Homo sapiens: one gene and its partners. The gene in region 1 interacts genetically with each later gene. Each region holds a gene or a part of one and is shown on either strand. Other genes may lie near its edges.

Evidence for each region.
Region 2: of XAF1 (region 1) and HIPK2, changing one suppresses a phenotype caused by changing the other (phenotypic suppression), as found in Homo sapiens cells (one study listed by BioGRID).
Region 3: of XAF1 (region 1) and SIAH2, changing one suppresses a phenotype caused by changing the other (phenotypic suppression), as found in Homo sapiens cells (one study listed by BioGRID).

What each region holds. Positions count from the first base shown.
Region 1 is NC_000017.11:6,751,258-6,759,637, reverse strand, and holds the start of XAF1 (XIAP-associated factor 1), read right to left. Parts: upstream 3,593-8,380; 5' UTR 3,560-3,592; coding exon 3,528-3,559; intron 1,550-3,527; coding exon 1,414-1,549; exon of another isoform or gene 1,296-1,413; coding exon of another isoform or gene 1,013-1,295; exon of another isoform or gene 870-1,012; coding exon of another isoform or gene 679-869; intron 383-678; coding exon of another isoform or gene 164-382; exon of another isoform or gene 1-163. UniProt on the Homo sapiens protein: Seems to function as a negative regulator of members of the IAP (inhibitor of apoptosis protein) family. Inhibits anti-caspase activity of BIRC4. Induces cleavage and inactivation of BIRC4 independent of caspase activation.
Region 2 is NC_000007.14:139,571,999-139,579,584, forward strand, and holds part of HIPK2 (homeodomain-interacting protein kinase 2), read right to left. Parts: intron 3,291-7,586; coding exon 3,130-3,290; intron 1,400-3,129; coding exon 929-1,399; 3' UTR 1-928.
Region 3 is NC_000003.12:150,740,625-150,746,755, forward strand, and holds the end of SIAH2 (E3 ubiquitin-protein ligase SIAH2), read right to left. Parts: intron 2,075-6,131; coding exon 1,517-2,074; 3' UTR 501-1,516; downstream 1-500. UniProt on the Homo sapiens protein: E3 ubiquitin-protein ligase that mediates ubiquitination and subsequent proteasomal degradation of target proteins.

The DNA of each region.
Region 1 (8,380 bases):
ACACACACCAGATGTGGGTCCACCCAGCACCCAGGGCCTGCCCCACATCCACTTTGGCTCACAGTGTTCCGGGTTTGGGTCTGTGAACTCCCAGAGGGCAGGGATCCGATGTGGCTACCTCAGTGTCTCTCTAGCACCCCGCCCAGTGTTCAAGAAGTGTTTGTCAGACCAGTCTGAGTTGGCAACGGCTGCCTGAGCTTGAGTATCTCCAGAGAGACAGATCAGGGGCCCCAGGAGGAATGGACATGGAAAGGCGGGAAACAGGGCTCCATCTGACTGCCTTCCAGGACCTTCCTTTTTCACATCCTCTCTTTACAGATCTCAAGAGAACAGCCAGTCTTTCCTGAAACCAGAACCTCTTGCCTATGCCAGATCCATAAGCCTGTAGGGAAAGGATTGGAAATAGGAAAACTGGAGGTAGACTCAGATTAGCATGAAAAAGGCAGGATTAACATTTCCTTTCCATGGGCTTTGTGTGGAGGGGCTAAATGACTTCCCATGGCCCTCAAGTGAGTCTCTGCCTGGGGGACTGGACCCTTGCCTTAAGTCCCCAGCCCTCACCCCAACTCCCGGACCCCATCTCTCCTGCAGGGAGGACTGGAGCCATTCCCTGACTCCCAGACCCCTTCTTTCTTGCAGGGAGGATGGAACACTTGCCCCTCCCAGACCCCATCTCACCTGCAGGGAGGACTGGACCCTCGTCCCCCAACTCTCAGACCCCATCTCTCCTGCAGGGAGGACTGGACCCACTCTGTGACTCCCAGATCCCATCTCTCCTGCAGGGAAGATGGAACACTTGCCCCTCCCAGACCCCATCTCACCTGCAGGGAGGACTGAACACTCTCCTTGACTCCCAGACCCCATCTCACCTGCAGGGAGGACTAGACCCTCGTCCCCCAACTCTCAGACCCCATCTCTCCTGCAGGGAGGACTGGACCCACTCTGTGACTCCCAGACCCCATCTCTCCTGCAGGGAAGATGGAACACTTGCCCCTCCCAGACCCCATCTCACCTGCAGGGAGGACTGAACACTCGCCTTGACTCCCAGACCCCATCTCACCTGCAGAGAGGACTGAACACTCGCCTTGACTCTCAGACCCCATCTGTCCTGCAGAGAGGACTGAACACTCGCCTTGACTCCCAGACCCCATCTCACCTGCAGAGAGGACTGAACACTTGCCTTGACTCTCAGACCCCATCTCACCTGCAGAGAGGACTGAACACTCGCCTTGACTCTCAGACCCCATCTCTCCTGCAGAGAGGACTGAACACTTGCCTTGACTCCCAGACCCCATCTCACCTGCAGGGAGGACTAGACCCTCGTCCCCCAACTCTCAGACCCCATCTCACCTGCAGGGAGGACTGAACACTCACCTTGACTCTCAGACCCCATCCTCCCTGCCGCCTCCTCACCTGCTGGTGCTCAAGCTTGCAGTGCTCCTCCATGGTTTCCTTGGGGACAGGCTCCTCACACTCCGGACACAGGACCAGGAACCGCAGGCAGTAAGCCTCATGGAGGGTGAAGTTGGCAGAGACTACATGTCTTTTACTACAGGGTCAAGGTGTGGGGATAGAAAAATAGACTTATTTTCATATTATAAAACATGGAGCTGTATTTCATACCCAGGGCTAGATCTCCAGAGGCCTTAAGCACTGAACATGTGATGATGATGACACCACCTGCCCCACACTCCCTGTGTGGGTCCAAAAGTCAGAACAGTGAGGCAGCATCTAATAAGAATAAGGATGATCTACAGAGCTCTTACATTGCTGGGGCAGGGCATGGGAAGGAGCAGGAGGGAGGAATTACAAAGGGGCATGGGGAGCTTTTGGGGTGACAGGAAGCTTCATTATCTCAATTACGGGGATGGTGTTTCATGGATGTATATAACTTAGGCCAAAACTTATCAATTGCTACCCTTTAAAATGTGAGGTTTATTGTAGGTCAATTATACCTCTATAAGGCTGTTTTTAAAATGAAACATTTCATTTTAAATAATGTAAATAATTAAATTATTTCAATTTAAATAATTTGAGAGAAGTGCCAAATTCTCTTGAATCTTTTTTCTTGTTTTCTGGTGCCCCTGTTTGGTCCACAGTGTTAGGAACGCAGCCCTGCTAGGCTCACGCTTCCTGCCAGGGCCATGCCAACTTCCAAAATCTCCAAAGCGAGAGCTTCCCAAGTCTCCCCTGCCTTCAGGTTCACCTGCGCTAACTCACAGAGACTCCGAGGTTCTTCCTGGAGACCACAGTGAAGGAAGGGTTCTGAGCCTCCCACTTCCTGGGCAGGGCATTTTTCTCTAACCGTCCTTTTTGCCAAGAAGTGCCCCCTTTTGGCTGGGTGTGGTGGCTCATGCCTGTAATCCCAGCACTTTGGGAGGCCGAGGCGGGTGGATCACCTGAGGTCAGGAGTTAGAGATCAGCCTGGCCAACATGGTGAAACCTCATCTCTACTAAAACAATACAAAATTAGCCGGGCATGGCGGTGCACGCCTGTAATCCCAACTACTCGGGAGGCTGAGGCAGGAGAATCACTTGAACCCGAGAGATGAAGGTTGCAGTGAGCTGAAATCGCGCCATTGCACTCCAGGCACTCCAGCCTGGGCAAAAAGAAGCGAAACTCCATCTTAAAAAAAAAAAAAAAAGAAGAAGAAAGAAAGAAATGACTCCTTTCATTTCCATCAGCTCTTGCTTGTGGCAGCTTGGGAGAAGGGAAATGGGGTGGCTGTAGCCGTAAAGGCCCAGGGGACGAGAAGAGTTACATGCCCATGTTCCTGGCACAGGGGACGTGCTCCGAGAGGGACTGTCAAAGCCTCACTCCTCTTCTGCCCAGGCAGCGGGCACACAGGCAGCATCATCTTCCCTTCCTCTGCTCTCTCTCCTCTGCCTGACCTGGCCCCTTCTCCCCCTGCTCTTCCTGGGCTGGTTGAGAAACCAGAGTACTTGAAGGGTCTGGCTGGAGCAAAGCTCTCTGGGGAGGGTCCACTCAGGTCCCTGTCACAGGTAGGGAGCTTTGAGAATGGGGCTTTTTGATCGGTCAGATTCCGCGCCCCCCCTCCCGTTAGAGGTGTGGTCCCAGCCCCCTGCTCTGTCCCCCCTGCCCCGCCCCACGGCTCCCTTTCCAAGGAGGGTGAGAGTAGTCCTGGAGAATCTCCGTGGGACACTTTCTTTCACAGATGGGTGTGAAGGTCATAGTATCAGAACCCCAAATTAGGACCCAAGGTCTCACAAGTATGAGTAGCCCAGTTGGGACCACTGGCCGGGCTATTTGGCTTCAGAACTGTCCCAGAAAGCCTAACATTTGGGGGAAAGGGGCTGCAGTGAAGTGGAGGTAATGCTGCCCACCCCCACCCAGAGATTACCAAGTTTAAACCCTCCTACCCTTGGGGCCCACGGTCTCCAGCTGCTTGTCCTCCTAAGTGTTCTTATGCAGGAACCACTTTCTGCTCCCTTCAGAAACAGCCCTATGTCGTCTACGTCTCTCCCTCGCCAGCCCGGGTCTGCCGCTGGAGAAAGCACTTTCTTACCAGTTCCTGCACACCGAGAAGTCTCCTTCCATGTTCTGCTCTCTGCAGGCTTTCGGTTGAGTTTCGTTTCTTGCAGGCAAGGAAACAAAACTGAAAGTTTTCCGATGGCCCAGCCCACAGCTTCAGGGAGGGAGGAGATCTTCAGAATTCTCGGCTCAGGAGTTCCCCTTGATTCCTGAGGCTGGACCCTCCCAAGAAGCCCCTTTACAGCATGGCCAGCCCCTGCTGTCGCCCTTGGCCGTCATTCTTTGCTGCTGTCACAGCCGCATCTACCTCCCTGAGGCTGGCAGCCTGAGGCCAGGCCTCTCCTGGGCAGCACAGCAGCTTGTTCCCTCACCCTGGCTGGCTGGCTTCTCTCCGTCTGGGTCTCCATCCCTTTTCCAAACCATCCACCTCCCACCCTTCTCCCCCATCTCCGGCTCCCTTCTGGTCCTCCCCTGCAGGAAAGAGGGAACTTGCCATGTTGAGCTTGAATGCTGTTCCCTAAAAATGGCTCCTGGACTTCCAGGCGGTGAGGACCTTGCAAACAGCGTCCAGGGAGGCTCTGGGGATGCAGGGTGGTGTGAGCCCAGACCCAATCTGGTGTGTATCCTCCTGGGGGTCCTTAGAGTTTTTCCAGACCCTAGAAACAGCTGTGCTAACAGAAGAACTCTAAACAACATCTGGAGTGATGACAAGCAGGCCCAGAGAATTCCCGTGGCGTCTGCCAATGGGGTGGGTGCCGCCTCTCTGAGGAGGATAACAAGATTAAGGGAAATGTCCAGGCAGGGCTCCAGCCTCCAGGCAGGCTCTAAAATTCAGGCACTAAATGAGAAGCAGTGTGTGGTGGTACTGATGATCACAGTGATAGGAGGGAAGAATGAAAGACTGTTTCAACATTGTTCCTATGTTCCAGGCACCATTCTAAGCATTAGGTAGGCATTGTCTTCGTTTTAATCCCTCATGTAAGCATTATTAACTCCATTTTGCTATGGAAAACAGAGGCAGTGACAGAGTGAGACTCTGCCTCAAAAAAGAAAAATGAAATGAAAAAAGAGAAAATGGAGGCAGAGAGAGGCTAGGCCAATCGCTCAACATCAGAGCTGGGATTCACACCAGGTTGATATGACTCAGGTGTCTATGTACCTAACCAAGGCCCCATCCACCTCATTTGACAGCTAGTTGGGGTAGTGAGCACTTGGCTGAGAGTCAGAGACTGAGGTTTGCATCTTATCTTGTTCCCTTCCTCATCGGCTAGGCAAGCTCCTTAATCCTTCTGACCCTCACTACCCACTCCTGTCTGTCTCTGGGCAGTCTGTCAATATCAAGAATGAAAAACGAGTGGGCTTGGCTTGGTGGCTCATGCCTGTAATCCCAGCACTTTGGGAGGCCGAGGTGGGCGGATCACGAGGTCAGGAGTTCGAGACCAGCCCGACGAACATGGTGAAACCCCGTCTCTACTAAAAATACAAAAATTAGCTGGGTATGGTAGTGCTTGCCTATAATCCCAGCTACTCAGGAGGCTGAGGCAGGAGAATTGCTTGAACCCAGGAGGTGGAGGTTGCAGTGAGCCGAGATTGCACCACTGCACTCCAGCCTGGGCAACAGAACGAGACTCTGTCTCAAAAAAAAAAAAAAAAAAAAAGGGCTGTGCGCGGTGGCTCATGCCTGTAATCCCAGCCCTTTGAGAGGCCGAGGCGGGTTGATTATGAGGTCAGGAGATTGAGACCATCCTGGCCAACACAGTGAAACCCCGTCTCTGCTAAAAACTACAAAAAATTAGCCGGGCGAGGTGGCGGGTGCCTGTAGTCCCAGCTACTCGGGAGGCTAAGGCAGGAGAATGGCGTGAACCCAGGGTGGAGCCTGCAGTGAGCCGAGATCGCGCCACTGCACTCCAGCCTGGGCGACAGAGCGAGACTCTGTTACAAAAAAAAAAAAAAGAAAGAAAGACAGGAAGAAAGAAATGGAAAAGAAGGAAAAATGAAGAACTTTCTTTTCACATATTGTCTCCTGCTGAGATGGGATAGGGGTGGTGGCAGGGGTGTATAGATTGGACACCTTAGAGGAATGGAATGTGTGGCCAGGGGATAGGAGTGGAATTAGAAGTGACCATAAGTTGCTTCTCATCTACATCCTAATTTTCTTCCAAGATGTTTCCTCCTATAGACTGTCCCACCCACGCCAACCCTTCCCTTCCTCATCAAAATCCCAGCAGTTCTTCAGGACCAACTCCTATGCCAACACTGATCTAGAATCTACCTCCTTTGTCTCTGGCTTTGGTTAGTTGGCTGTGTGTCTATTGTCTCAACTCCTCCCCATCCAATCACAGGCATGGGCGATTTGAGAGCCAGCTCTTTCTGACCCACCACCCCTGCCTTCCTGGAGAGACCCGCGGGCTTTGTGCTTATTAGGCAGAGTGCAGTATTGAGCTTCGCAGTAGCAGGCAGTCAAATGCTGGCTGACCCGAATGGATGGGGTGTTTTGAGATAATTAAGCAGGGAGTTGGAAATCTCCCCCAACCCACACAACACCCCTGAGTCGGAGGGCTCTCAAAGTGGCAGCAATGGCCATTTTCTTTTCATTTCTCAAGATAACTTAGATTTCATAAAGAATATATGAATATACACTCTTTAAAAAAATGGAATGTTACAAATACAGCAATGTTTCTCTTTGACTGTCACGGCTGTTCCTGGGCCATCACTATTATTAATCAGAGAGTGTATGTAGGAACACTCTGGTTAGCACAAAAGCCTGTCCCCATTTCCACTACGACATCAATCGGTGCTGTGGGCTTGTATGATTTCATCATTCTGCCACCCGTCTTTGGCTGGTCGCCAACCCCAATCCCATTTAAAAAAAAAAAAACAAAAAACAGCTAGATGAGAAATGCTCTGTTGTGGGCTTAGAATTCCTTTCCAGGACACTGTGGCTACCCACTTGGCCGTTGTGGGGAGTTTCCGGCAGTCTCTTTGTGTCAGGCCTGTGGGTCAGGGGAGGGGGGTGAAGGTTGTCACAGGAAGCCAGTCTCTCAGACGTGAATTGGCCGGGCTGGCCATGTCACCTTTGCAGGAATCGGGGGGAAAGGGGAGCAGGAAGTCCTGGCTGGACTAGGACACAGGAATAATACACCCCTCCGTGCATTGTTTTGAAGATCAGAAGAGAAATTGTGTGAAAGCTGTACTTGTACAGCATGGAAGACAGGAAAGAATATTTAAAAAGGATTGTTTTAATAGTTTGGCTTTGAGAAGGGATCTTATTTAGGCTTTCTTCTTTTAAGGGATCACTATGCTAAGGAAGATGATGTAACGACAGAGATATTTCACTTCCCAGACAAAAATTATATGGTGCAATTGCACACACTTCTGTCGGTGGTGTCTTTAGAAGAATCCTGTGGTCAGAGTGGGCCTGAGTCCTGGGAGATGTGATCATATAGTCAGACTCCCCAAGCACAACGTGTTTGGATGGGAGTTCGTTTGTCAGACCACAGGAAATTGCATCAGATGACTAGTCTCTGGATGGCATTCAAGCCTGGGAATATCTGTGACTGTGTTTGGGGAAGACTCTAGGCCTGGCTGGGCAGCAAAGACGGGGAATGACCTGCTGGCTGCTGCTTAGTTGGCATATGAAGGGGAAGGAAGCTTGTCATTAAACTCATGGCAAGAAAGAGCAACTCCATGGCATTCTGTCTGTGTGGGGAGTGACCAGTACTTTTCTCTTCCTTTCTTTCTTTGAGAAGTCTCTTTTCACACATTCATAGTTTTGTTTTTGTTTTTTTCTTTTTCCTGGTTAAAACATCTCACCCACTTCCCCTGCCAACCCATTCCCGTCCAATCAGCAATCACAGTCCAAATGTCAAGGTCTCTTCCCTGATGTTTACAAGGGTGAGTGTTATGAGCCTTCTCCTCTTCCCAGATTACACATATTGGGTAAAGAGATGAAGTCTGTCTCTGTCACTCAGGCTGGAGTGCAGTGGTGATCATAGCTCACTGCAGCCTCGAACTCCCAGGTTCAAGCAATCCTCCTGCCTTCACACAGACTACAGGCACACACTACCATACCTAGCTAACTTTAAAAAAAATTGTAGAAATGGGGTCCCACTATGTTACCCAGGCTGGTCTTGAACTGGCCTCAAGTGGTCCTCCAACCTCGGTCTTCCAAGGTGCTGAGATTACAGAAATGTGCCGCTGCATCCAACCAATTTTTTAATAGCTTGATCATGGTATGGTCCCCTTGGTTGCTGCAAATCTCATGGAACTCAGGACAAATGACCATATATGTCAATTTTTTTGTTGTTTCTTTTTATGGTGGAGCGGGGGAGGTGAAAGAGAAAAAGTTTAGAGCTTCAGGGTCTTTTCACTCAGAATTTGGGGTGAACATACTCATATGGTTAAGTTGTGGTAATGAACAGCCACTCAGACTCTCATTTTAGGGAATAACTAGTGTTTTAATTTTTAAAAATGGAAACTTATGTTTCTTCCTACCCTGTCCTTGACATCACGTGGTCTTTCTTACAATGATTCACACTGGCTCCAAGATATTGTGTCCATCTCTTCTTCTTCTTCTTCTTCTTCTTCTTCTTTTTTTTTTTTTTTTTTTTTTTTTTTTTTTGAGAAGGAGTCTCGCTCTGTCGCCCGGGCTGGAGTGCAATGGTGCCATTTCGGCTCACTGCAACCTCCACCTCCCGGGTTCAAGCAATTCTCTGCCTCAGCCTCTTGAGTAGCTAGGATTACAGGCGTCCACCACCACATCAGGCTAATTTTTGTATTTTTAGTAGAAATGGGGTTTCACCATCTTGGCCAGGCTGGTCTTGAACTCCTGACCTCGTGATCCTTCTGCCTCAGCCCCCCAAAGTGCTAGGATTACAGGCATGAGCC
Region 2 (7,586 bases), on another chromosome or scaffold:
GAACACAAGGTAGGAGACAAGGGTGCTGAGTGCTACATTCTACTAGGGTGTCTGTGACGACCGCTAGCCCTACGCTACGCGACTAGGGGTGGATTCAAAGAGAAAATACATTTTCAGAAAAGAAAAAAACCTAAAGTTTGCAACACACATTATTAATGACATTTGAGAAACAACGTTGCTTAGGGATTTATCCAGAGTGCTCAGAAAAAGAAAACTCGCCCCGCGCCCCCGGGGGCCTTCCAGCAGCCTGGCCGTCCCCCGTCTTTCCTGACTAGGGAGCCCGGACTGGGCTTCGCCAATCCCACACCAGCTCCAAACATCAGCCTCCTCAGGCTGCAGCCCGACATTCTGGAGGGCTGTTGACCCTTTCGAGTTCTGGAAAAATCCCTAAATCTTATGTTCAATTAATTAAAAATCTATTTGATTTCCATATCAGGTGTCCCTGACAGCAGTCTTCCGTATCACTTGCTGCCATATGAAAATAATCTTTGAAAAGTTCATAAAGTTCTTCAAAAACTGGGGCCCCCCGTTTCTGGAATCTTCCTGTTGCTCTCTTCTCCTTTCCAGTTTGGCGTAGAATGGGTTCTTGAGCTGGGTTTTTTGTTATTGACTTTTTTTTTTTCCTTTTTCTTTTTTAAAATAAAAACCATAGATTTCCCACCCTCTTTAATCCCTTCCTTTTAAAAATGTTCTCTTCTCTGCTCTACGTCCTCCCACTTCCCGGTTCAAGTTTCACTGGTGTCCCGACCCGTCCCCCTGCCCTCTGCCCCCCCCCCCCCCCCCGCCCCTGCCCCGTTTGCATTGTTTGTGTGCGGCATCTTCAGTATAAAAGGCCAGCGCCCACGGTCCCAGGAGCGCCTCCCTCCTTCTCTCCCTCCTCCCTCGGGCCATTCTCTCCCTCCCTCCCTCCCTCCCTCCCCTCCAGTGTTTATATGTAAGGGTACTGGTTGACCTTGGCGGGGCTCAGTGGGTATCCAGTGTAGACGGTGGAGGCTGGCGAGGCGCTGATGTAGGTCTGGTGGGCAAATTGGGCTGGATACTGACTCGGGTGGATGGTGGGCGAGGGCAGGACCCGGGGGCCCATGCTCACGGGGACCTGGTGGACGATGCTGGCTGGGTAGGCAGTGTGCTGCACGGTGTGGCGCGCAGAGCCTTGCGAGGCCACCAGGTGGGCCACGGTGCCGGTGGAGCCCAGGGCCGCCGGCGCAGTGTAGGTGTAGAGGTGGGGCTGGGTGGGGAGGTGGGCAGCGGCAGCGGCTGCAGCCAGATGCGGGTGCACAGTGCCGTGGCTGGGGCTGTTGTGCGGGAAGGAGTACGGAGCCTGGGCCATGGTGGGAGTGATGTAGGCCTGCTGCCTTCGGTGGCTCCCAGTGCGGTCCGTGGTGATGTGCTGCTGAGCCTGGGGAGGAGAGGCACCAAGAGAGACGTCAGGGGCCGACACATGGGGAGGAAGGAATGGGAGGAGGGGCAGGAGGGCAGGGAGGAGGAAGAGAAGGGAAAGACTCCAGAAGTAATAGAAGGGGCTTCCCTCTGTGTGTTGAGAAAGTAAAAATTTACTTGGGACCTGGCGCAGTGGCTCACGCCTGTAATCTCAGCACTTTGGGAGGCAGAGGTGGGCGGATCACCTGAGGTCTAGAGTTCGAGACCAGCCTGGCCAATATGGTGAAACCCCGTCTCTACTAAAATACAAAAAAATTAGCCGGGCATGGTGGCACGTGCCTTGTCTGTAGTCCCAGCTATTCGGTGGGCTGAGGCACAAGAATCACTTGAACCTGGGAGGTAGAGGTTGCAGTGAGCTGAGATCACGCGAGTGCACTCCAGCCTGGGTGACAGAGTGAAACTCTGTCTCAAAAAAAAAAAAAAAATTTACTTGGACTGAGAAAATCCCGACTTGGCCTGCCACTCACTGGGCTGGGATGATACACGGATAAAGCCAGCTGCAAAGTTATAGGAGAACATATTTCTCCCAAGGACGTACAGAAGCTGTGAAGTATCAGGATGCCCCAGGCTGGAGTGCAGTGGCATGAACCTAGCTCACTGTAGCCTTGAACTCCTGGCCTAGAATGATCCCCCCGCCTTGGGCTCCCGAGAAGCTGGGACTACAGGCGTGAGCCACCGCACCCGGCCAGGACACTCTCTTTGAGCAGCAGTTGCTTTCTTACTCACTGTAAAATCTTGTTCTCAAAATTATTGGCTCTCACAACATCTCTACAAAAAATTTTGAAAATTAGCTGGGTGTGGTGGCTCATGCCTGTAGTCTCAGCTACTCGGGAGGCTAAGGTGGAGGATTACTTGAGTCCAGGAGGCAGAGGCTGCAGTGAGAGCCATGACAGTGCCACTGCACTTGAGCCTGGGTGACAGAACAAGACCCTGTCTTAAAAAAAAAAAGTTGGCTCTCAGAAGCGTTGCTGTTTGAAGTTCTGTCAGTCCAAATAAAATAGCCCTCTTCTACCTGGTGAACCTAAGTCACGTGACAGAGACACGGGCTCCACTGATGACCTGGGGCAGCACTTCAGATGAGGGGCTCTGAACACAAACACCCCATTTATCTCACTTTGTTTCTAGAGAAACAGGGCCCTGAGTCCACCACGTGAGTCAGGCCTGATGCCGAGCCCTTGACACAGACAGCCCTGCACCCACAGAAACTCAGGTCACTCACATTTCACCTCAACCCACCCCCCTTCCTCCAGGTCCTGGGACAAATCTTACCCTTGACTTGGGGGCTGTGGTGTGCGGGCCCTCCCTGCAATGAGTCGGATGCAGGTCTGTCCCTGATGTCCCAGGCCGACAGGGCCGGGACACAGTGCTCTACCCTTTGCTGGGTTGAAACAGCAGTATGTGGGCCATCCTATTTTTAAGCTCTGGCACCATGTCACTAAGGGCTTTGTAACATTAGACAAGTCGCTTTGCTTTGGGCCAGCACTCTGTGCACTGGTGATATCAACTTCCCCAAGGGTGACCTGTGGTAGAAAAAGCCACCAGAGGTCACCAAGGGCATGTGCTGCCACCCGTGGCCAGGACTGCAGCCCTGTGAGGTGGGTGAGGGGCCGCCACAGCAATCCTCTCTGAAGCGGAAGGATGAGGGGATGGGGGCCCTGCCTGGCCTGGGGCGCCAGCTGTGGGGCTTACCTGGCTGAGATTGAGTGGCTGCTGCTGCTGGAAGTGGGGGCCCGGCCGCTGCTGCCGGTAGGTGATGGCTCCAGATGAGCTCCCTGAAGAGTGACCGCTGGTGGAGGTCACGTTGCTGGAGGACTTGGACTTGTAGGAGGACGAGTGGTGACTGGTGTTGACTGTGGCGGGAGGAGAAAGAGGTCAGATCAGTGGCAGGGTCCCAGCTGCCCAGAAGATGCTACCCCACCAGAGAACAGTGGTCTTCCAGGAAGAAACATGTGCCTGAGGCCGGGCAGTAACAAATCAGCCTCATCTCCCCCGGACCCACTAGGACTTTGCCTTGACTCTGGATGCAGTGGGGCTCTGGCTCACTCCCTCGGCTGGGAGGGTGGTCGGGGCTGCATGAGGGAATGAAGCAAGGGAAAGCGGAAAAGAATCAGGAGAGGCAAGGTGGGCTGGTGGCCTAAGGCCAGGCCCAGTGCCGTTCCTCTGGGAGGTGTTACTTTCAGCATCTGGAAAATGGGTAGGAGAGATCTGCTATAATTTGAATGTGTTCCCCAAAGTTCTTGTGTTAGAAACTTAGTCCCCAGTGCAAGTGTTTAGGGTGGGGCCAGTAAGGGATGTTAGGTCCTGAGGGCAGAGCCCTCATGAGTGTATGAGTTCATCAGTGCATTAATATTATCTCGGGAGTGGGTTAGCTATTGAGAGATTGGCTTTTTTGATGAAAACAAGTCTGGCCCCCTCACCCTCATGCTCTTTTGTCCTTCTGCCTCCTGTGCTAGGAAGATGCAGCACAAAGGTCCTTGCCAGATGCTGGCATCCTGTTCTTGGACTTCCAGTCTTCAGAATCGTGAGCCAAATAAACTTCTATTGATTATAAATTACCCAGTCTCAGGTACTCTGTTACAGCAACACAAAATAGACTAAGACAGGATCCCTGCTTGGTCCCCACCATGGGTGACTATGAGTATCAGAGGAGACAGTGTCTGTGGTGGGACCTAATAAACTACTAGAAGCTAAAATAACCCTCAGAGTCACCTGGTCCAGTTACCTGCCTCTAGGCAGGATGAGACTAAATCATCCGGGGAATGGCCCTGTGAGCCAAACATGGCCAAGCACAAAACTGCCTCCATGTTATTGCCAAGGGGGCTGAAGAGTGGAAAAAACACTGCAACCCTCCAGAGGTGACCTCATGGTCAGCAGGTGGCTCCATCAACAGTTCTCAAATGTAATTCCTGCATCTTGTTCAGTGCAGACTCTGGCCAGCAGCTCTGGGGGGCCCGAGCACCTGCATTTCTGACAAGCTCCCAGGGGGTGCCAGTGCTGCTGCTTGGGGGACCACGCTCTGAGTAGCCAGGGGCTCTGAGAGAGGTGGGTTAAACCCTGAGCTGGATGGCTTCCATGTTACCCAGCCAGAGAGCCAGGGGAGCCAGGAGCCTCTTCAGAGCCCAGTGGTTTTAACTCATCCAAGTATTTTCTGAGCTCCTGCCCTGTGCTAAGGACGGTGACTGTGTACCACCAGGGACGGGGGTGGCAGGGAGAAGGCTGAGAGCGTGAATAAGGAGGAGGCATCACAGATCACGCAGATGAGGTGGCGAGGCCAGAGGATAAACCAGATGAAGACGCTGACAGTCAGGGACAGCCCAAGTCCAAGAAGGCTGATGGAACAGGACAGGGCAGGACAGGGCATGAGTGTCCAGCCCAGCAGGGGCAAGAGCCCCAGAGGGCGGGAGCTCTGCTGCCGAGTGGGGGCCATCTCCCCACCCCAGCTTGGGGAGTTCTGCAGACAGGACCATCACCCCTTGATAAAAGCAGAAGAGATGCTTTACTAGCCCCCCATGTCCCTGTGCCTCAGCTCTCCTCCAGGAGAGGGCTGCCTAACACACAGTGCAGTATTAATACACACCTAAATGAAATTTCCAATCAAATGCACCCAGATGCACCAGTCATAGCCATTCATTAAATGCAAGCACTTTTGTAATGGCAAAAGCAACAAACAGACCCAGACTAGTGAGAAGATACTGGGCTTCCTTTTTTTTTTTTTTTTTTTTTTTTTGAGATGGAGTTTCACTCTTGTTGCCCAGGCTGGAGTGCAATGGTGCGATCTCGGCTCACTGCAACCTCTGCCTCTCAGGTTCAAGTGATTCTCCTGCCTCAGCCTCCCAAGTAGCTGGGATTACAGGCACCCGGCACCACGCCTGGCTAACTTTTTTGTATTTTTAGTAGAGACAGGGTTTCACCATGTTGGCCAGGCTGGTCTCAAACTCCTGACCTCAGGTGATCCACCTGCCCTTGGCCTCCCAAAGTGCTGGGATTACAGGCGTGAGCCACCGCGCTGGGCCAACACTGGGCTTCTTTAGGAGCAAACTGCATAATGGCCTAGGAAAGTGTGGGAGGCAGAAAATTCCAGATACCTTTCTCTAACTTCAATGACAACGGAAGCAGAAAAAGAGGGGTTTAGTAAGTGAAGGCTACGACAAAGCAGCCTGAAGACTGTGTGGTTTGTGTTGTATAGTTAGAAACCATAGTTACAACAAGCATTGCTTCTGTTCCTTAAACGCTAAAGAACAGTAGAGTTAATGGAGAAGAAAACATCTTCCAGGTGGAAAGACAGGCAGATGGTCCCCCACCAAGAAGGGCAGGGCAGACCAGGGAATGAACAAGAGCCTGGCGCTGGGGCTGGGGGCTGTCCTGCCTCCTTGGGCAACCAGTCCTGCTGGGGTGAGATGTGCACAGAAACAATACTGATTTTTTTTTTTGAGATGGAGTCTTGCTCTGTCTCCCAGGCTGGAGCGCAGTGGTGTGATCTTGGCTCACTGCAACCTCTGCCTCCCAGGTTTAAGTGATTCTCGTGCCTCAACCTCCCAAGTAGCTGGGATTACAGGCATGCACCACCACGCCCAGCTAATTTTTTTTTTGAGACAGAGTCTCGCTCTGTCGCCCAGGCTGGAGTACGGTGGCGTGATCTCAGCTCACTGCAGCCTCCGCCTCCCGGGTTCAAGTGATTCTCCTGCCTCAGCCTCCCGAGTAGCTGGGACTACAGGCGCCCACTGCCACACCCAGCTAATTTTTGTATTTTTAGTAGAGACGGGGTTTCACCATATTGGCCAGGCTGGTCTCGAATTCCTGACCTTGTGATCCACCTGCCTTGGCCTCCCAAACTGCTGGGATTATAGGCATGAGCCACCGCGCCCAGCTGCTAATTTTTGTATTTTTGGTAGAGACAGAGTTTGACCATGTTAGCCAGGCTGGTCGTGAACTCCTGACCTCAAGTGATTTGCCTGCCTCAGCCTCCCAAAGTGTTGGGATTACAGGCGTGAGCCACTGTGCCCAGCCATGGTACTGATTCTTAGTCTAAGAACCAGACTGAGGAAGACTTTGCCCAGGAAAAAGGGAGCGCATTTTAAGAGAGAAAGGTAATGAGTAACCTCCTTTCCGCCATCCTTTGTTGATTTGAGCACTTCATGTGTTGTATCTTGTACTCAGTTATTTTTCTTCATTAAGTTTCTGGAATGTGCTTGAAATATTTTTATCACCTTGACTTTCTATGGAGGACAGCTAAATTCCTTTTTTTATTTTGAGGTGGAGTCTTGCTCTGTCGCTCAGGTTGGAGTGCAGTGGTGCAATCTCGACTCACTGCAACCTCTGCCTCCCAGGTTCAAGTGATCCTCCAGCCTCAGCCTTCCGAGTAGCTGGGATTACAGGTGTGTGCCACCAAACCTGGCTATTTTTTGTATTTTTTAGTAGAGATGGGGTTTTGCCATGTTGGCCAGGCTGGTCTCGAACTCCTGATCTCAGGTGATCTGCCCCACCCTTGGCCTCCCAAAGTGCTGGGATTATAGGCGTGAGCCACCGTGCCGGACAGCTATATTTCTGTGATTTATATTTTTTGGAAACCTTGCTGGACTTTAGGATTACTGCCTGGTGACACTGAAAAGCGTAAGGAAGCCCTAGGAGAGGAAAGATGAAATAACTGAGTATGGGAAAGAGCTTTGGCCAGGGAATCCAGTCATTCGCCAAAATGCGGTGCTATTGTTCCACAGAGCCCCAACTCTAAAGCAGTCCACATTTGAGGAAGGTGCCCAAAGTAGGGGTGTTCAAAGGACGAATCAGGTAAAATGTTTCATATGAAGGGAGAGGCAGCAAGAACATATTGCAAGATGTCCAAAGACAGATCTACACCTCACGTTCAGAAGCAAGAATTCGGAGCATTCATTTTGGGGCCTGAGCATCTTAGGTGAACTGGAAGGCTCATACTGTCTCAATGAAGTATCCTATGGGTGGTTAGTGTAAAAGGAGAGAATCTGGTCATTCTTGGGGCAGAGGTGCTAAATATTAATGAGCCATGCATGGAAACGACCAGGCCCTTGATTGAATTCGGTTGGATCAATTCTATTACAAATCCCAGGGCGATGAAATCAAAGTCAAAGAGGAGACGCCTGAGGCTGGAGCCAGCAAGAAAGAATGCTGATTAA
Region 3 (6,131 bases), on another chromosome or scaffold:
TGCACTCCAGCCTCTGTCTCAAAAAAAAAAAAAAAAAAAAAGAAAGAAATTGGGACACTGAGGTAAGCAGCCTTCAATCCTTGCTGAGCATTTGGCCCTAATCCTCTAAATTCTTTTGAGAGTTTAGGGTTGGGACTGAGGGAGTGGGTCAGCTTGGATCAACGCCAGCACTCTGGATGTCAGCAGTGGCCAAGCGTCTTCCTTCTGACTCTGTAAAGCTGGAGCAATCCTCTTATTGCACAGGTACTGGCACTGTCAGATAGAAACGACAGCCCTGGGAGGAGACCTGCAGCACTGACAGTCAGTGGTTCAGACACATGAGCCCGGACCCCAGTGCTGTCATGGACCCGTGCCATGACCTTGGCCCAATGACTGTTTCCACAGTGGAAACAAACAGTGAAAGTTCCAACCCCAGATGTAGTGACGAAGGTTCATTGCACTTGCACACAGTAGATGCTCAATAAATACCCATTACTCAATTAGGGAAATGAAGCACAATATCCATTTTTGGAAAATATTTATTAAAAAACTAGTGAATGTGGCAGAAAAACAAAACCAACACACAGCTTTAAATAGCAAGCATATGACACACCGGTTATAAAGCTTTTCCAACTCTACTGATTTAGTCTTTCACACCAGCTACTGTTGAGGAGGGCTTCCGAGGGAAGCCACGTGTAAACGGGTCATCTGTACTAGTGGTGAGCAAAACTAATTACATGAGAACTATCAATGGCCATATGACTTGCTTTCCTAGGCAATCCACCCAAAACATAGGTGAGTGGCCAAATCTCAGGCGTGCGTTCATGTGGATCTATAGTTCTAGTTTTAATTTGAGGGTTGGGGGAAGTTAGGGGATGAAACAGTAGAAAGACAAACAGTATCGGCAGAGGGCAACCTTAAAGCACCTTTAAAATCTGGACCCTTTCCCACAATTTAACCCAGTAATTCTCAAACATTACTGTTGAAAAGAATCACCTGATGAGACTGTTAAATTGGCAGGCTCCCTAAATCTGCAATTTTAAGATAAGCACTCCGGGTGATTCAGTGTCTATTAGCCAGCCATCCAATTTCAGAAACACTGTTTAAAATGCATTAAAACAATTCCTACCTCCCACAAACAAAAGTAAAGGAATCTGCTGACAGTCACTGTGCTTTTGTCAATGTCAAGGGACCAATATGGGAAGGCAGGCAGGAAGGGGCCTCCCATTCCTAACACACTGATCTATAGAAGCCCTGTGCAACAGCCTGTCAAGTGTTGTTTAGGGAGTAAATACAATTCAATAAGAGTTGTTTTAGATCACAGAACAGCATCCAAATCACCAACAGGCCAACCCCATTCATCCCAGGTTAATGAACTTTGTTGGGTCGAAGCCAGATGGGACACTGCTGTTCAAACAAAACACGGGTAATTGTGGGTCCTGACTTGTGAAGACATATGGAATAAAACATCTATAAAAACCTTTATTAAACATAGAGCACTATGCCCAAATAATTTTGAAGGTTTACGAAAGTCACATCATGGACAACATGTAGAAATAGTAACATTGATTCCAAGGTTCCCATTATCTGCAAAAAGATGTGCTATGGCTGTGTCGAAAACAAGGCAGTCGCTGTTCATGATGGCCGCAGCCACACCGTCATGAATCGAACGGGGCGTGGCCTCCCAGGTCAATCTCCGCCGGTTCCCATTCAACTCCAGTCTGTAGGCAAAGTTCTCGGCTTGCTTGCGGGTGCCAATGAGCAGGACGATGGCAAAAAACTGCTGGTGGCCTTCGTACTTCTCTTGTTTCTCCAGCACCAGCATGAAGTGATGGCCAAAACATGACTGCATCATCACCCAGTCGACAGCCCCTGGCAAGTTAATGTCTGTAGCTAGAAAGACGATGTCTTCTCCCTGAAGGGTGGTAATGCTCTTGTGGGCGTGCATGAGATGGGACATCACAGCTTCCAGGGACCCCTGCCACTTGCAGGAAGCACCAGGACATGGGCAGGAGTAGGGACGGTATTCACATATGTCTTCATGTTCTGGTTTCTCCGTATGGTGCAGGGTCAGGGAACAGCCCGTGGTGGCATACTGCAAAGAAAGAAATGCATTGAGCCATTGGGCCTTCTCAAAACTTCTATTGCTTCAACCCTCTATGAGTACTTAACTACTCCATTTTCCTGGGCTTAAACTGTGTTCTTAACTACTTTTGCTCAAAGCAAGTGAAATATTCAAGACTAAAAGTCTCCGTCTCTATTCATCATCAATGCTGTCATGCATAAAATGAAGGGTATTTCCTGAACCAGAAATACGCTGTTTTCCATGCCCCCTGTTCCGCTGTCAAAGGGATCAGAACTAAAGTTCTCTTACTGTGCACATCTCAAAATTGTTGAGCAAGCCCTATAAAAGCTGGTCTTCCCCATATTTTCTGTGAAGCTGTTTTTTAAAGAATTCAATTGCTTGGGTGGTGGGGATGGGGTTGGGCAAGGAATATTATATTATCCCAAGATTAGTTTTCACATATAGACAATATTAACAACAGTATAATTCTGTCGTCCCCCTCCACTGCTTTCTGGCTCAAACTGGTGACTGGCAGGCAGGCCGTGGGGAAGGCTGCCCTTTGGTTCCTTGCTCTTTGCTGCTGGCATCACCAGGCTAGGGCAGCGGAGGCCTGGAGACCCCTTCATACAGCTAGAAATATTACCCCACTGCATCCTTTTGACCTTCCCTCTGGGGGGCTTTGCCCATATTTTTTGGGTGGAAGGAAATCACATCCAAGAGCTACTTAACTAACTCAGAAGACTACTGGTCAGTCTGGTTCTGGCCAGTAGAGGTTAACATGAGAAGGGCCTAACCCTCCTCTCAAAGCTTGCTGACCCCCAACACTTCCTCAGATTCAAGAGCACATCATTTCATGGTCAGGTATGTCAGGTCCTCACAACAGGCCCGGGAGGAAGCAGAACTAGACAAGTTTGCTGACATGATCAGTCTGCCCCTCAGACACTGCCTTAATAGGGTAGGAGAACAAAATCATTTTCTCCCTTGCACTTGGGATGACATTCCTAATGGATAAATCATACCTGCCGTGGCAAAAGACCACACCAAGAGGAACTGAACTTCTACTCCAGACTCTCACAAGGATGACAGTGTTAATTCCTAGATACCAGATGGAGATCAGCCCACAAGTAGACACCTGCCCTGAGTACTAAGCTGTTCTGTAAAGAATTAAGAAACCTGAATCACCTTTTCAGGTGAAACTAGGTGTCAGCCTTAGACCCCTGGAGCACAGAATGGCAGGGGAACTGTCTGGCTAACTACACTTGGATTCCCCTGCTCCACTGAGACATGAAGGCACCAAATAAGGGCAAGGCCAGGTCATTTTTCTAAGATGCTATGTCCAGTTGCTAAAAAAAAAAAAAAGCACCACTGCTGTTTTTGCTTCTCTCTACCCTGCTTTATAGAATAATCCCCCTTTTAAACTTGAAGTCGGTCAAATTCTAACCTTCATAGATGAATTTATCACTAGCAACAAGCAGATGGTATGCACTATGTGACTTCTCCATACAAGACGCTAAGTTACAGTCACTCAGAGGATTCCGAAGCAAGGATGACAGCCTCCACTCTCAGGGGGATTAGTCTCCCCTAATCGGAAAGGAGAGTGGCTTAAAGAAAGAAATGTAGCTCATCCTCCAACCCCCACTTCCCCATACCTAAGCGGATTATAATATTTAACAGAAATTGGCAGAAATATTTCAGTTACTTATTTGCCCATAGGAATTGTTTGTTCATCTTTTAAAACTCTGAACTAATTTCTAAAGCCTGGCTGTAAAAAAACTCACTCAGGAGAAACAAATTTATTTATCCATGTGTATTCATACTTTGTGTTCCTTACTTTATAAGGCCTGAAAAACAAATCCCTATTAACTGTGTTTTAAATCTAGGGTGTGGCTAGGAATACAGAGCCTCCTCATGTTCTTCTGTGAGTGATGGGTGAGACATTTCTGTCCAGTTTAAAAAAACACACACACACAATAAAAATAGCAAGAAATAGCCCAGAGCCTGGCAGAGTCTCGAAACAAGCTCTCAATATCTGAAGATGTTTCAAGACGAACTTTTCCCCATAGCTGCCCAGGAATGAGATGAACTTTGGCCAATGGCACCCAGAAAGGTACCAGCTGCACCTCTGCCCAAAGTCCCAAACCACTCCTCATTCATGACGAACTCAACATTTACAGCAAATATTTATCACTTGGCAATCATTTTATAACTTTCCCCACTCAAGTAGGAGTATTTATACTCTGAATTATTTGATTTGCCTTACAAATCACATATTCAACACTTCTTTCCACCCAAATATACAGAACAGGGAACCTCCCCAAACTGCACAAATAGAAAAGGCATTACTTTGCATTTGTGTGGACAACGATCTCATGTTTTTTCATAAGGATCTTGCTACATCCTCTATTAACTTAAATAAATAGTTTTAAAGCCTTAGGTGCTTACTCTGCTTTTACTGAACAAGCAGAACTTTCATGGCAATCTATCCCTTCTCTTTCCATCATGGGTAAGGTTCATGTCTTCATAACAACTGGTGCCACTTTTATGATGACTAAAGTCTAAATTTTAACCCCCTACACACACACACACACACACACACACACACACACACACCCCACATTTCATACTTCAAGCAGTTTTGGCATTGTTCTGGAATGGCATGTCAGAGCACCATGGGTGTTTTGTCACTTTCATCAGGGGCTCTCATCCAGGGATCCGAGGGAGGACTTTAGTAGTTTGTGAATTCCCCAAGACTGTATGTAAAACTGTCTAGGTGCTTCTGAGCAGCAAAGCCAAGTCTCACTGGCCCCTGGCCTTGGGCTTGTGTTTTCTTTTCTTTTTTTTTTTTGAGATGGAGTCTTGCTCTGTCACCCAAGCTGGAGTGCAGTGGCGCGATCTCGGTTCACTGCAAGCTCCGCCTCCCGGGTTCATGCCATTCTCCTGCCTCAGCCTCCCAAGTAGCTGGGACTACAGGTGCCTGCCACCACACCCAGCTAATTTTTTGTATTTTTAGTAGAGACGGGGTCTCACCGTGTTAGCCAGGATGGTCTCGATCTCCTGACCTCGTGATCCACCCGCCACGGCCTCCCAAAGTGCTGGGATTGCAGGCTTGAGCCACTGTGCCCAGCCTGGGCTTGTGTTTTCTTGAAGAGCTCCAAGGGTTTCTAAGAGTTTCCAGGGCTGAGAACCTCTATCCTAGAGCACACAGAAGGAATCAGCTGTGGATCCTGCCCTTGTGGTGTTTCCAGTTGAGAAAGACCATATAATAAATTTAACAACTATGTAAAGGAAGACCAGGAGGGCAACAGGTGATTTCAAGGTGGGACAGGGTGAGGAGGACATGGTAAGGAAAGCTTTATTGTAGACAAGTGGATTGTGGATGGAGTTGTTCCATCTGGTTCTAGCACAGGGTGAGTGGAGGAAACAGTGGGGATAAAACCTCAAGGAGGCCAGGCGCGCTGCTCACACCTGTAATCTCAGCACTTGGGTAGGCTGCGGCAGGTGGATCACTTGAGGTCAGGAGTTCAAGACCAGCCTGGCCAATATGGTGAAACCCTGTCACTACCAAAAAATATAAAAAATTAGCTGGGTGTGGTGGCATGCACCTGTAATCCCAGCTACTAGGAAGGCTGAGACAGGAGAATAACTTGAACCCAGGAGGAGGAGGTTGCAGTGAGCTGAGATCGTGCCACTGCATTGCAGCCTGGGCAACAGACTGAGACTCTGTCTCAAAAAACAAACAAACAAACAAACAAACAACCTAAAGGAGAAGGCAGGTGAGGGACCTTCCTGACAATGGAGTTTATTTTGAGTTTCTCGACAGTGGTGCTATTGACATTTTGGACCTGATAATTCGTTGTTGTGGGGGCTGTGCTGTGTACCGCAGGATGTTTAGCAGCATCCGTGGTCTCTATTCATTAGATGCCAATAGCAACCACCCCCTGCCCCTCAGTTGTGACAACCAGAAATGTCTCCAGCTCTCCAGGCATGGCCAAATGTCACGTAGGGGGCAAAATGGCCCCAGTTGAGAACCACTGACTCTGATAAGAACTACTCATTCCAATTCTCAAGAATGACAAAACCTGGCTTC